3 linked regions of the Homo sapiens genome follow. The protein of the gene in region 2 interacts with the protein of the main gene of each other region in a pairwise test. Each region holds a gene or a part of one and is shown on either strand. Other genes may lie near its edges. The genes, in order: WASHC1, TRIM69 and ZNF483.

What was found.
Region 1: the proteins of TRIM69 (region 2) and WASHC1 interact in a two-hybrid assay, tested with the Homo sapiens proteins (one large-scale study listed by BioGRID).
Region 3: the proteins of TRIM69 (region 2) and ZNF483 interact in a two-hybrid assay, tested with the Homo sapiens proteins (one large-scale study listed by BioGRID).

What each region holds. Positions count from the first base shown.
Region 1 is NC_000009.12:22,938-26,592, forward strand, and holds part of WASHC1 (WASH complex subunit 1), read right to left. Parts: exon of another isoform or gene 2,394-3,655; intron 2,071-2,393; exon of another isoform or gene 2,068-2,070; coding exon of another isoform or gene 2,063-2,067; coding exon 1,914-2,062; exon of another isoform or gene 1-1,913. UniProt on the Homo sapiens protein: Acts as a component of the WASH core complex that functions as a nucleation-promoting factor (NPF) at the surface of endosomes, where it recruits and activates the Arp2/3 complex to induce actin polymerization, playing a key role in the fission of tubules that serve as transport intermediates during endosome sorting.
Region 2 is NC_000015.10:44,739,528-44,743,182, reverse strand, and holds part of TRIM69 (E3 ubiquitin-protein ligase TRIM69), read right to left. Parts: intron 1-3,655.
Region 3 is NC_000009.12:111,545,535-111,549,189, reverse strand, and holds part of ZNF483 (zinc finger protein 483), read right to left. Parts: 3' UTR 1-3,655. UniProt on the Homo sapiens protein: May be involved in transcriptional regulation.

The sequences.
Region 1 (3,655 bases), on a different chromosome or scaffold from region 2:
CGCCAAAAATCCAGCGCTGCCCTCAGAGAAGGGCAACCACGCAGTCCCCATCTTGGCAAGGAAACACAATTTCCGAGGGAATGGTTTTGGCCTCCATTCTAAGTGCTGGACATGGGGTGGCCATAATCTGGAGCTGATGGCTCTTAAAGACCTGCATCCTCTTCCCTAGGTGTCCCTCGGGCACATTTAGCACAAAGATAAGCACAAAAGGTGCATCCAGCACTTTGTTACTATTGGTGGCAGGTTTATGAATGGCAACCAAAGGCAGTGTACGGGTCAAGATTATCAACAGGGAAGAGATAGCATTTCCTGAAGGCTTCCTAGGTGCCAGGCACTGTTCCATTCCTTTGCATGTTTTGATTAATTTAATATTTAAAATAATTCTACCAGGAAGCTACCATTATTACCACAACTTCACAAATGAGAACACCGAGGCTTAGAGGGGTTGGGTTGCCCAAGGTTACAGAGGAAGAAAACAGGGGAGCTGGATCTGAGCCAAGGCATCAACTCCAAGGTAACCCCTCAGTCACTTCACTGTGTGTCCCCTGGTTACTGAGACATTCTTGACAAACTCGGGGCAAGCCGGTGAGTCAGTGGGGGAGGACTTTCAGGAAGAGGTGGGTTCCCAGTTGGTGACAGAAGAGGAGGCTGCAAAGTGAAGGAGCAGGGGCTCCAGGTCTGGCGACAACCAGGGAAGGGACAGGGCAGGGATGGCTTGGACCACGAGAGGCACCTGAGTCAGGCAGTCACATACTTCCCACTGGGGTCTACCATGTGAGACATGGTGTGGGATCCTGGGAAGGAGACCAAGCCTCATTTCAGTTTGCTTATGGCCAAAGACAGGACCTGTGTACCCGACAACCCCTGGGACCTTTACCAAAAAAACAGCAAACACCATTCACTCACTCATGTTAGATAAACACTGAGTGAAGTCACTGGAGCCCAAGGACTGTGCGAGGTCAGCACTGCCAATACAAGAAGCTGCAGCCCTCCAGCTCGCCTCCCTCAATGGCCACTCCGTGCTCCAGCCATGCTGGCTTCCTTTTAGGTCCTCCACCTCCAGGCTGTAGTTCATGTGCTTCTTTCTGGAATGTTCTTCCCAACCTACCCACTCAACCCTCAGACTTTACCATAAATGTCATTTCCTCACATCTGCCTTCCCTGACCTGAGACCAAGCCAGGCTTCCCATGACGAGCCTCACAGTACCCCATCTCCCCTGAACAGATGCAGTAATAACCTACATAACCCGGGGCCATGATCTATGGCTTTGAATCCTGGCTCTGTCACTAGGCCAGGTCTCTCAGCCCTTCTGTGCCTCAGTTTCCTCATCTATAAAATGAGATGACGGCAGTGCCTGCTCATGAAGTGTGAGTTAATGCACTCAAATCAATGGTTGTGCACGGTTTATATGAATATTAGTGATTACAAAATATTATCAATAGACCTTGTCACAACTGTTATTGAAGAACTAATCATCTATTGCTTATTTAGGTCTTTCTCTCCTGCCAGAATGTGCGCTCCAGGTGGAGAGGTATGTTGCCTTATCCGTGGCTGGATATATAGAGATTCCCACACTGCCTTGCACACGAGCACTGCTGGGTAAATATTTGTTGGCTGCAGGAAAACGTGAAGGAATAGGCCCTCCAATGGGAGGAAAAGCATGAGTTGTGAGAGCAGAGCCACCACAGGAAACCAGGAGGCTAAGTGGGGTGGAAGGGAGTGAGCTCTCGGACTCCCAGGAGTAAAAGCTTCCAAGTTGGGCTCTCACTTCAGCCCCTCCCACACAGGGAAGCCAGATGGGTTCCCCAGGACCGGGATTCCCCAAGGGGGCTGCTCCCAGAGGGTGTGTTGCTGGGATTGCCCAGGACAGGGATGGCCCTCTCATCAGGTGGGGGTGAGTGGCAGCACCCACCTGCTGAAGATGTCTCCAGAGACCTTCTGCAGGTACTGCAGGGCATCCGCCATCTGCTGGACGGCCTCCTCTCGCCGCAGGTCTGGCTGGATGAAGGGCACGGCATAGGTCTGACCTGCCAGGGAGTGCTGCATCCTCACAGGAGTCATGGTGCCTGTGGGTCGGAGCCGGAGCGTCAGAGCCACCCACGACCAACGGCACGCCCCCACCACAGGGCAGCGTGGTGTTGAGACAACACAGCCCTCATCCCAACTATGCACATAGCTTCAGCCTGCACAGATAGGGGAGTAGGGGACAGAGCATTTGCTGAGAGGCCAGGAGCGCATAGATGGGACTCTGCTGATGCCTGCTGAGTGAATGAGGGAAAGGGCAGGGCCCGGGACTGGGGAATCTGTAGGGTCAATGGAGGAGTTCAGAGAAGGTGCAACATTTCTGACCCCCTACAAGGTGCTTGCTACCTGCCAGGCACCCTTTCCATACCTTGTCTCAGTTCAGCTCCCCACCTTGGATAAACAAGAAACCTTGGTTGCAGAGGAAAAAAGAGGCTGGAAACAAAGGGGTAGAAATGGGGTAGCAGGGGAGATTGCCTGATCAACTGCCAAATGGTACACAGTTCTGGAAAAGCACAAAAAATGTGCACACACGGGTTCTTCCCACTTTAACCCCTGAGGAATCTGAGGCCTGCTCCTGAAACAGACTGGGCAGTGGCTAGTGACTCTAGGTATAGGAGTATCCAGCCCTGCTCACCCAGGCTAGAGCTTAGGGGGACAAGAGGAAAGAGGTGCCTGTGGGGGTGGAGGACAGGAAGGAAAAACACTCCTGGAATTGCAAAGTGAGGGCAGAGTCTATTTATATTGGGTTTAATTAACTCCTCTCCCTGGTGCCACTAAAGCAGCAATCACACTGCAGACAGCACTGATTTGATTGGCAAGAGATGCACCAGGCAGAATATTAAGGGACCAGGCCCCTATAAATAGGCCTAATCACAGCCCCTCACTGGAAAATGGTAAGGAAGACATTAATCAGGCCTGGCACTGTGCCCTAGACCTGCTCCCCTAGGCACTACAGTGGGGCCCTTGGTTGCAACACAAGTAGGTATGGATGGATGAGTGTGGCATGAAGGGCCTAGGAGATTTCACTTGGGTTTAAAATGCTGTGACCTTGAGTAAGTTGCCGTCTCTGAATCTGATCCTTTCGATTTCCCATTCTCCAAACTGAGAACTAGCACTGCTGAGACGTGGTTATTTCCAATAATAATTTGTATATTTTACATAACGCACCACACCAACATCTTCACCCAGTTGGAGCCTACTCCTTTGCTCCCGCTGCTGGCTTCCCCAGCCCTCCCTTCTGCCCTCCTCAGGCCAGCACTTTTCAGTGAGTTCCTCCTTTGCATACAGGCTTTCCAGATCTGTACTTGCCTTGAATACTCATCAGAGCCCAGGAGTTACTCCTCACCTCCCACTTATTTTTCCTCCCATCAAATAACTAAAGCATGGCCAGCTGATGCCCAGCCAACTGAGAAACCCAACCCTCTGAGACCAGCACACCCCTTTCAAGCATGTTCCTCCCTCCCCTTCTTTGTATTTATACTGATGCAAGTTTGCTGGCTGTCCTAACTTATTTCTGTGCCTCAGTTCTCCCATATGTAAGATCACAAAGGGGGTAAAGATGCAAGATATTTCCTGTGCACATCTTCAGATGAATTTCTTGTTAGTGTGTGTGTGTTTGCTCACACATAT
Region 2 (3,655 bases):
AGGTTAGATAGTTGTAGATATGCGGCATTATTTCTGAGGGCTCTGTTCTGTTCCATTGATCTCTATCTCTGTTTTGGTACCAGTACCATGCTGTTTTGGTTACTGTAGCCTTGTAGTATAGTTTGAAGTCAGGTAGCATGATGCCTCTAGCTTTGTTCTTTTGGCTTAGGATTGACTTGGCGATGCGGGCTCTTTTTTGGTTCCATATGAACTTTAAAGTAGTTTTTTCCAATTCTGTGAAGAAAGTCATTGGTAGCTTGATGGGGATGGCATTGAATCTATAAATTACCTTGGGCAGTATGGCCATTTTCACGATACTGATTCTTCCTATCCATGAGCGTGGAATGTTCTTCCATTTGTTTGTGTCCTCTTTTATTTCATTGAGCAGTGGTTTGTAGTTCTCCTTGAAGAGGTCATTCACGTCCCTTGTAAGTTGGATTCCTAGGTATTTTATTCTCTTTGAAGCAATTGTGAATGGGAGTTCACTCATGATTTGGCTCTCTGTTTGTTATTGGTGTATAAGAATGCTTGTGATTTTTGTACATTGATTTTGTGTCCTGAGACTTTGCTGAAGTTGCTTATCAGCTTAAGGAGATTTTAGGCTGAGACAATGGGGTTTTCTAGATATACAATCATGTCATCTGCAAACAGGGACAATTTGACTTCCTCTTTTCCTAATTGAATACCCTTTATTTCCTTCTCCTGCCTAATTGCCCTAGCCAGAACTTTCAACACTATGTTGAATAGGAGTGGTGAGAGAGGGCATCCCTGTCTTGTGCCAGTTTTCAAAGGGAATGCTTCCAGTTTTTGCCCATTCAGTATGATATTGGCTGTGGGTTTGTCATAGATAGCTCTTATTATTTTGAGATACATCCCATCAATACCTAATTTATTGAGAGTTTTTAGCATGAAGCGTTGTTGAATTTTGTCAAAGGCCTTTTCTGCATCTATTGAGATAATCATGTGGTTTTTGTCTTTGGTTCTGTTTATATGCTGGATTACATTTATTGATTTGCGTATATTGAACCAGCCTTGCATCCCAGGGATGAAGCCCACTTGATCATGGTGGATAAGCTTTTTGATGTGCTGCTGGATTCAGTTTGCCAGTATTTTATTGAGGATTTTTGCATCAATGTTCATCAAGGATATTGGTCTAAAATTCTCTCTTTTGGTTGTGTCTCTGCCCGGCTTTGGTATAAGGATAATGCTGGCCTCATAAAATGAGTTAGGGAGGATTCCCTCTTTTTCTGTTGATTGGAATAGCTTCAGAAGGAATGGTACCAGTTCCTCCTTGTACCTCTGGTAGAATTCGGCTGTGAATCCATCTGGTCCTGGACTCTTTTTGGTTGGTAAGCTATTGATTATTGCCACAATTTCGGAGCCTGTTATTGGTCTATTCAGAGATTCAACTTCTTCCTGGTTTAGTCTTGGGAGGGTGTATGTGTCGAAGAATTTATCCATTTCTTCTAGATTTTCTAGTTTATTTGCATAGAGGTGTTTGTAGTATTCTCTGATGGTAGTTTGTATTTCTGTGGGATCAGTGGTGATATCCCCTTTATCATTCTTTATTGCTTCTATTTGATTCTTCTCTCTTTTCTTCTTTATTAGTCTTGCTAGCAGTCTATCAATTTTGTTGATCCTTTCAAAAAACCAGCTCCTGGATTCATTAACTTTTTGAAGGGTTTATTGTGTCTCTTTTTCCTTCAGTTCTGCTCTGATTTTAGTTATTTCTTGCCTTCTGCTAGCTTTTGAATGTGTTTGCTCTTGCTTTTCTAGTTCTTTTAATTGTGATGTTAGGGTGTCAATTTCGGATCTTTCCTGCTTTCTCTTGTGGGCATTTAGTGCTATAAATTTCCCTCTACACACTGCTTTGAATGTGTCCCAGAGATTCTGGTATGTTGTGTCTTTGTTCTCATTGGTTTCAAAGAACATCTTTATTTCTGCCTTCATTTTGTTAGGTACCCAGTAGTCATTCAGGAGCAGGTTGTTCAGTTTCCATGTAGTTGAGCGGTTTTGAGTGAGTTTCTTAATCCTGAGTTCTAGTTTGATTGCACTGTGGTCTGAGAGACAGTTTGTTATAATTTCTGTTCTTTTACATTTGCTGAGGAGAGCTTTACTTCCAACTATGTGGTCAATTTTGGAATAGGTGTGGTGTGGTGCTGAAAAAAATGTATATTCTGTTGATTTAGGGTGGAGAGTTCTGTAGATGTCTATTAGGTCCGCTTGGTGCAGAGCTGAGTTCAATTCCTGGGTATCCTTGTTAACTTTCTGTCTCGTTGATCTGCCTAATGTTGGCAGTGGGGTGTTAAAATCTCCCATTATTATTGTGTGGGAGTCTAAGTCTCTTTGTAGGTCACTCAGGACTTGCTTTATGAATCTGGGTGCTCCTGTATTGGGTGCATATATATTTAGGATAGTTAGCTCTTCTTGTTGAATTGATCCCTTTACCATTATGTAATGGCCTTCTTTGTCTCTTTTGATCTTTGTTGGTTTAAAGTCTGTTTTATCAGAGACTAGGATTGCAACCCCTGCCTTTTTTTGTTTTCCATTGGCTTGGTAGATCTTCCTCCATCCTTTCATTTTGAGCCTATGTGTGTCTCTGCATGTGAGATGGGTTTCCTGAATACAGCAAGCTCCATCAGCTCCTTTAAGCACTTCTCTGTATTGGTTATTCTAGTTATACATTCATCTAAATTCTTTTCAAAGTTTTTAACTTCTTTGCCTTTGGTTTGAATTTCCTCCTGTAGCTCGGAGTAGTTGGATCATCTGAAGCCTTCTTCTCTCAACTTGTCAAAGTCATTCTCCATCCAGCTTTGTTTTGTTGCTGGTGAGGAACTGCGTTCCTTTGGAGGAAGAGAGGCGCTCTGCTTTTTAGAGTTTCCAGTTTTCCTGCTCTGTTTTTTCCCCATCTTTGCGGTTTTATCTACTTTTGGTCTTTGACGATGGTGATGTACAGATGGGTTTTTGGTATGGATGTCCTTTCTGTTTGTTAGTTTTCCTTCTAACAGACAGGACCCTCAGCTGCAGGTCTATTGGAGTTTGCTAGAGGTCCACTCCAGACCCTGTTTGCCTGGGTATCAGCAGCGGTGGCTGCAGAACAGTGGATTTTCGTGAACCGCGAATGCTGCTGTCGATCATTCCTCTGGAAGTTTTGTCTCAGAGGAGTACCCGGCCATGTGAGGTGTCAGTCTGCCCCTACTTGGGGGTGCCTCCCAGTTAGGCTGCTAGGGGGTCAGGGGTCAGGGACCCACTTGAGGAGGCAGTCTGCCCATTCTCAGATCTCCAGCTGCGTGCTGGGAGAACCACTGCTCTCTTCAAAGCTGTCAGACAGGGACATTTAAGTCTGCAGAGGTTACTGATGTCTTTTTGTTTGTCTGTGCCCTGCCCCCAGAGGTGGAGCCTACAGAGGCAGGCAGGCCTCCTTGAGCTGTGGTGGGCTCCACCCAGTTCGAGCTTCCCGGCTGCTTTGTTTACCTAAGCAAGCCTGGGCAATGGTGGGCGCCCCTCCCACAGCCTCGCTGCCGCCTTGCAGTTTGATCTCAGACTGCTGTGCTAGCAATCAGCGAGACTCCATGGGCGTAGGGCCCTCCGAGCCAGGTGCAGGATATAATCTCCTGGTGCACCGTTCTTTAAGCCCGTCGGAAAAGCACAGTAT
Region 3 (3,655 bases), on a different chromosome or scaffold from region 2:
CAAAATTAAATCTTTATTTATACACTCACACACACAGAGAACCTCCAGTGACTCAGTGACTCTCTATTGCACTGATAATAAAGCAATAAACCACTCTACAGAACTGGAAGGGTCTTTGTGGTGCAGGTTCTGAACTATGGCAACAAGCACTGCAATTGACTCCTACCCTCACCCCACAGAGACACCAAGACAAGTTATAATCAAGCTGCTGAAATCCAAAGACAAAAGGAGAATCTCAAAAGCATCAAGAGAGAAGCAAATCATCACATAAAAGAAATCCTCAGTGAGACTGTTGATTGCTCATCAAAAACCTTGGAAGCCAGAAGGCTGTGGCGTTGTTATACTCTTAATGCAGAAAGAAAAAAAAAAAAACTGTCAACTGAGAATTCTATATACAGCAAAACTGTCCTTCAAACAAGAATTTATCAATAAAAGGAAATTACCTTAACATAATAAAGGTCAAATATGAAAAGACCACAGCTAACATCATACGGAATGATATAAAATAGAAAGCATTTCAGGAAAAGGCACAGATGCCTGCTTTTGCTACTTGTATTCAACACAGTACTGGAAGTCCTAGCTAGAGCCATTGGCAAGTTAAAGCCATCCAAATTAGGAAGAAGGAAAAATTATCTATTTGCAGATGCCATAATCTTATATTTAAAAATCCCAAAAATTTCACAAGAAACTATTATGACTAATAAACAAATTCAGCAAAGTTGCAAGATACAAAATCAACACTCAAAACTCAGTTATGCTTCACTAACAAAGACCCATTTACAACAGCATCAAAAACATAAAATACTCAAGAATAAACTTGACCAAGGAGGCAAAAGACTTGTACAATGACAACTGTAACACATTGCTGAAAAAATTAAAGACGGCACAAATACATGGAAAGACACCTGGGGTTCACAGACTGTAATGTTTGTTATTGTTAGTATGTCCACATTACCCAAAGCGATCTACAAATTCAATGCAAGCCCAATCTTCATGCCATTTTCCACAAAAACAAACAAACCATCCTAAAATTCATTTGAAATCTTAAGGACCCCCAAATAGCCAAAACAATTTGGGAAAGAACAAAGCTGGAGGCCTCACACTTCCTCATTTCAAAAACATACTACAGGAAACGTAGTGTAATCCTGATTACAAAACATTACTGGAGTAATCAAAATAGCATGGTACTGGCATAAAGACAAACATATAGACCAAAGAAACAGAGCAGACAGCCAGAAATAAACATGCATGTATATGGTCAAATGATCTTTGACAAGAGTGCAAAGAATACATGATGTGGAAAGGATAGTCTCTTCAACAGATGGGGCTGGGAAAACTGGATATTCGCATGCAAAAGAATGAAGATGGACCCTTTACCATACATAAAAATCAAAATGGTTAAAAGACTTAAACATAAGACCTGAAACTATAAAACTCCTAGAATAGGAGAAAAGCTTCATGACATTGGATTTGGCCATGGTTTCTTGGGTATGACCAGAAAAGCACAGGAAACAAAAGAAAAAATAGAAAAATTAAACTTCACCAAAATTAAAACCTTCTTTCAAAGGGCATTAGGAATAGAATGAAAAGGCAACCCACACAGAATGGAAGAAAGTATTTGCAAATCATTTATCTGAAAAGTTCTTTATATATTCTGGATATATTAAGAACTTCTACAACTAAACAACAACGCCAACAAAACCAATTAAAAAATGGGCAAAGGACTTCAATAAACATTTCTCCAAAGAAGAGATACAAATGGTCAATAAGCACATAAAAAGACAGTTAACATCACTAATCACTAGGGAAATGCAAAACAAAACTAGAATAAGATGCCACTTCAAACCCATTAGGATGTCTATTATAAAAAAGAAATAGAAAATAAGTGTTAGCAAGGGCGGGGATACTGAAACCCTTGTACATAGCTGGTGGGAATTTAAAATAGTGTAGTTGCACTTCCTCAAGAAGTTAAATATAGAATCATCATAAGATCCAGCAATTCTATTTCTAGGCATATACTTAAAAGAACAGAAAGCACCACTGATTATAGCAATGTTATTCTTGATAGCCAAAATGGTGCAAACAACTTAAATGTTCACTGGCAGATAAAAGGATAAACAAAATGTGGTATACAAGTAAAATGGAATATTATTCAGCCTTAAAAAGGAATTAAATTCTGATATGTGCTACAACACGGCCGAACCTTGAAAACATAATGCTAAGTGGAATAAGCCAAACACAACAGGGCAAATATTGTATGATTCCATTCATACCAAGTAATTAGAACAGTCAAATTTGTACAGACAGGAAGTAGAACAGTGGTTACCAGGAGCCTGAGGAGGAGAAAATGGGGAGTTACTGTTTAAGGAGTACAGAGTTTCAGTTTGGGATGATGAAAAAGTTCTGGAGATGGATAGTGGTGATGACTGCACAAAATGTGCATCTATCTAAATGCTATTGAGCTGTATAACCAAAAAGTGTTTAAATGGTTCATTTTAAGCTATATGTATCTTACTACATTAAAAAATAATTCTAAAATAAATAAAATGACTTTATTGACCAAAACCTTGCCTTGTCCTGTGACATGAAAAAAATTTATACACGCTCATTAAGAGGAAACATTATTTAAAGCAAGGACTTCATTTTAAAGTAAAATGTGTCACAGTGCTCTTCATAAAAGCAATCCTATAATGAATCAAAAGACGTTTAAAGCCTTTTGATAATCTGACTTAATCCAAAAGTGAATTTAAATATTTGGGTGATGGGCCAGACTGAATGTCCTGCAGGCAATTATACAGACTTAACTACTGAAATCAAGACTTTGATAAATATTATCCAACAGAGTTTGGGCTGCTCTCTGTAGCTAGTACATGGTATTTAGAAAGTTCATATTGGATAAAGGACTTATATCCAGAATAAAAAGGACTACAACACAGTATCAGCAAACTCCAATTTTAAATGGACAAAAAATCTGAATAAACATTTCACTAAGATACATGAATGGCTGAAGAGCACATAAAAGATGCTTTGACATTATTCGCCATCAGGAAAATCAAAGTTAAAACCACAAAGGAATATCATTTCAAACGCTAGGATGGGCATAATTTTTAAAAAACAGACAACAATGACTGGCAAGACTGTAGAGAAATGGGAAGCCCCACACATTACTAGTCAGAATGTAAAATAATGCGGTCACTTTGGAAAACAATTTGGCAGTTTCCTAAAAAAGTTAAATGAAAATTTACCGTATGACCTAGCAACTCCCCTCAGGCATCTGCCTAAGAAAAATGAAAACATGTCCACACAAAGACTTGTACACTAACGTTCAAAACACTTGCATACCAATGTTCAAAGCAGCATTATTCCTAACAGGCAAAAACTGGAAAAACCTCAAATGTTCTTCAACTAGTGAATGCACGAAGCATCCACATAATGTAATATTATTTATGATAAAAAGGAATAAAGTACTAGTATGTTACAACATGGATGAACTTAAAACACATTAATGAAAAAAACACAGAAAGATCACATATAACATAAAATGTACAGAAAAAGACAACTCTAGAGACACAAAGTCGACTGAGTAGTGGGTGCCTGGGATTAGAGGTTGGACGGGAGATTAACTGTAAACTGGAATAACGGATCTTGCTGGGAT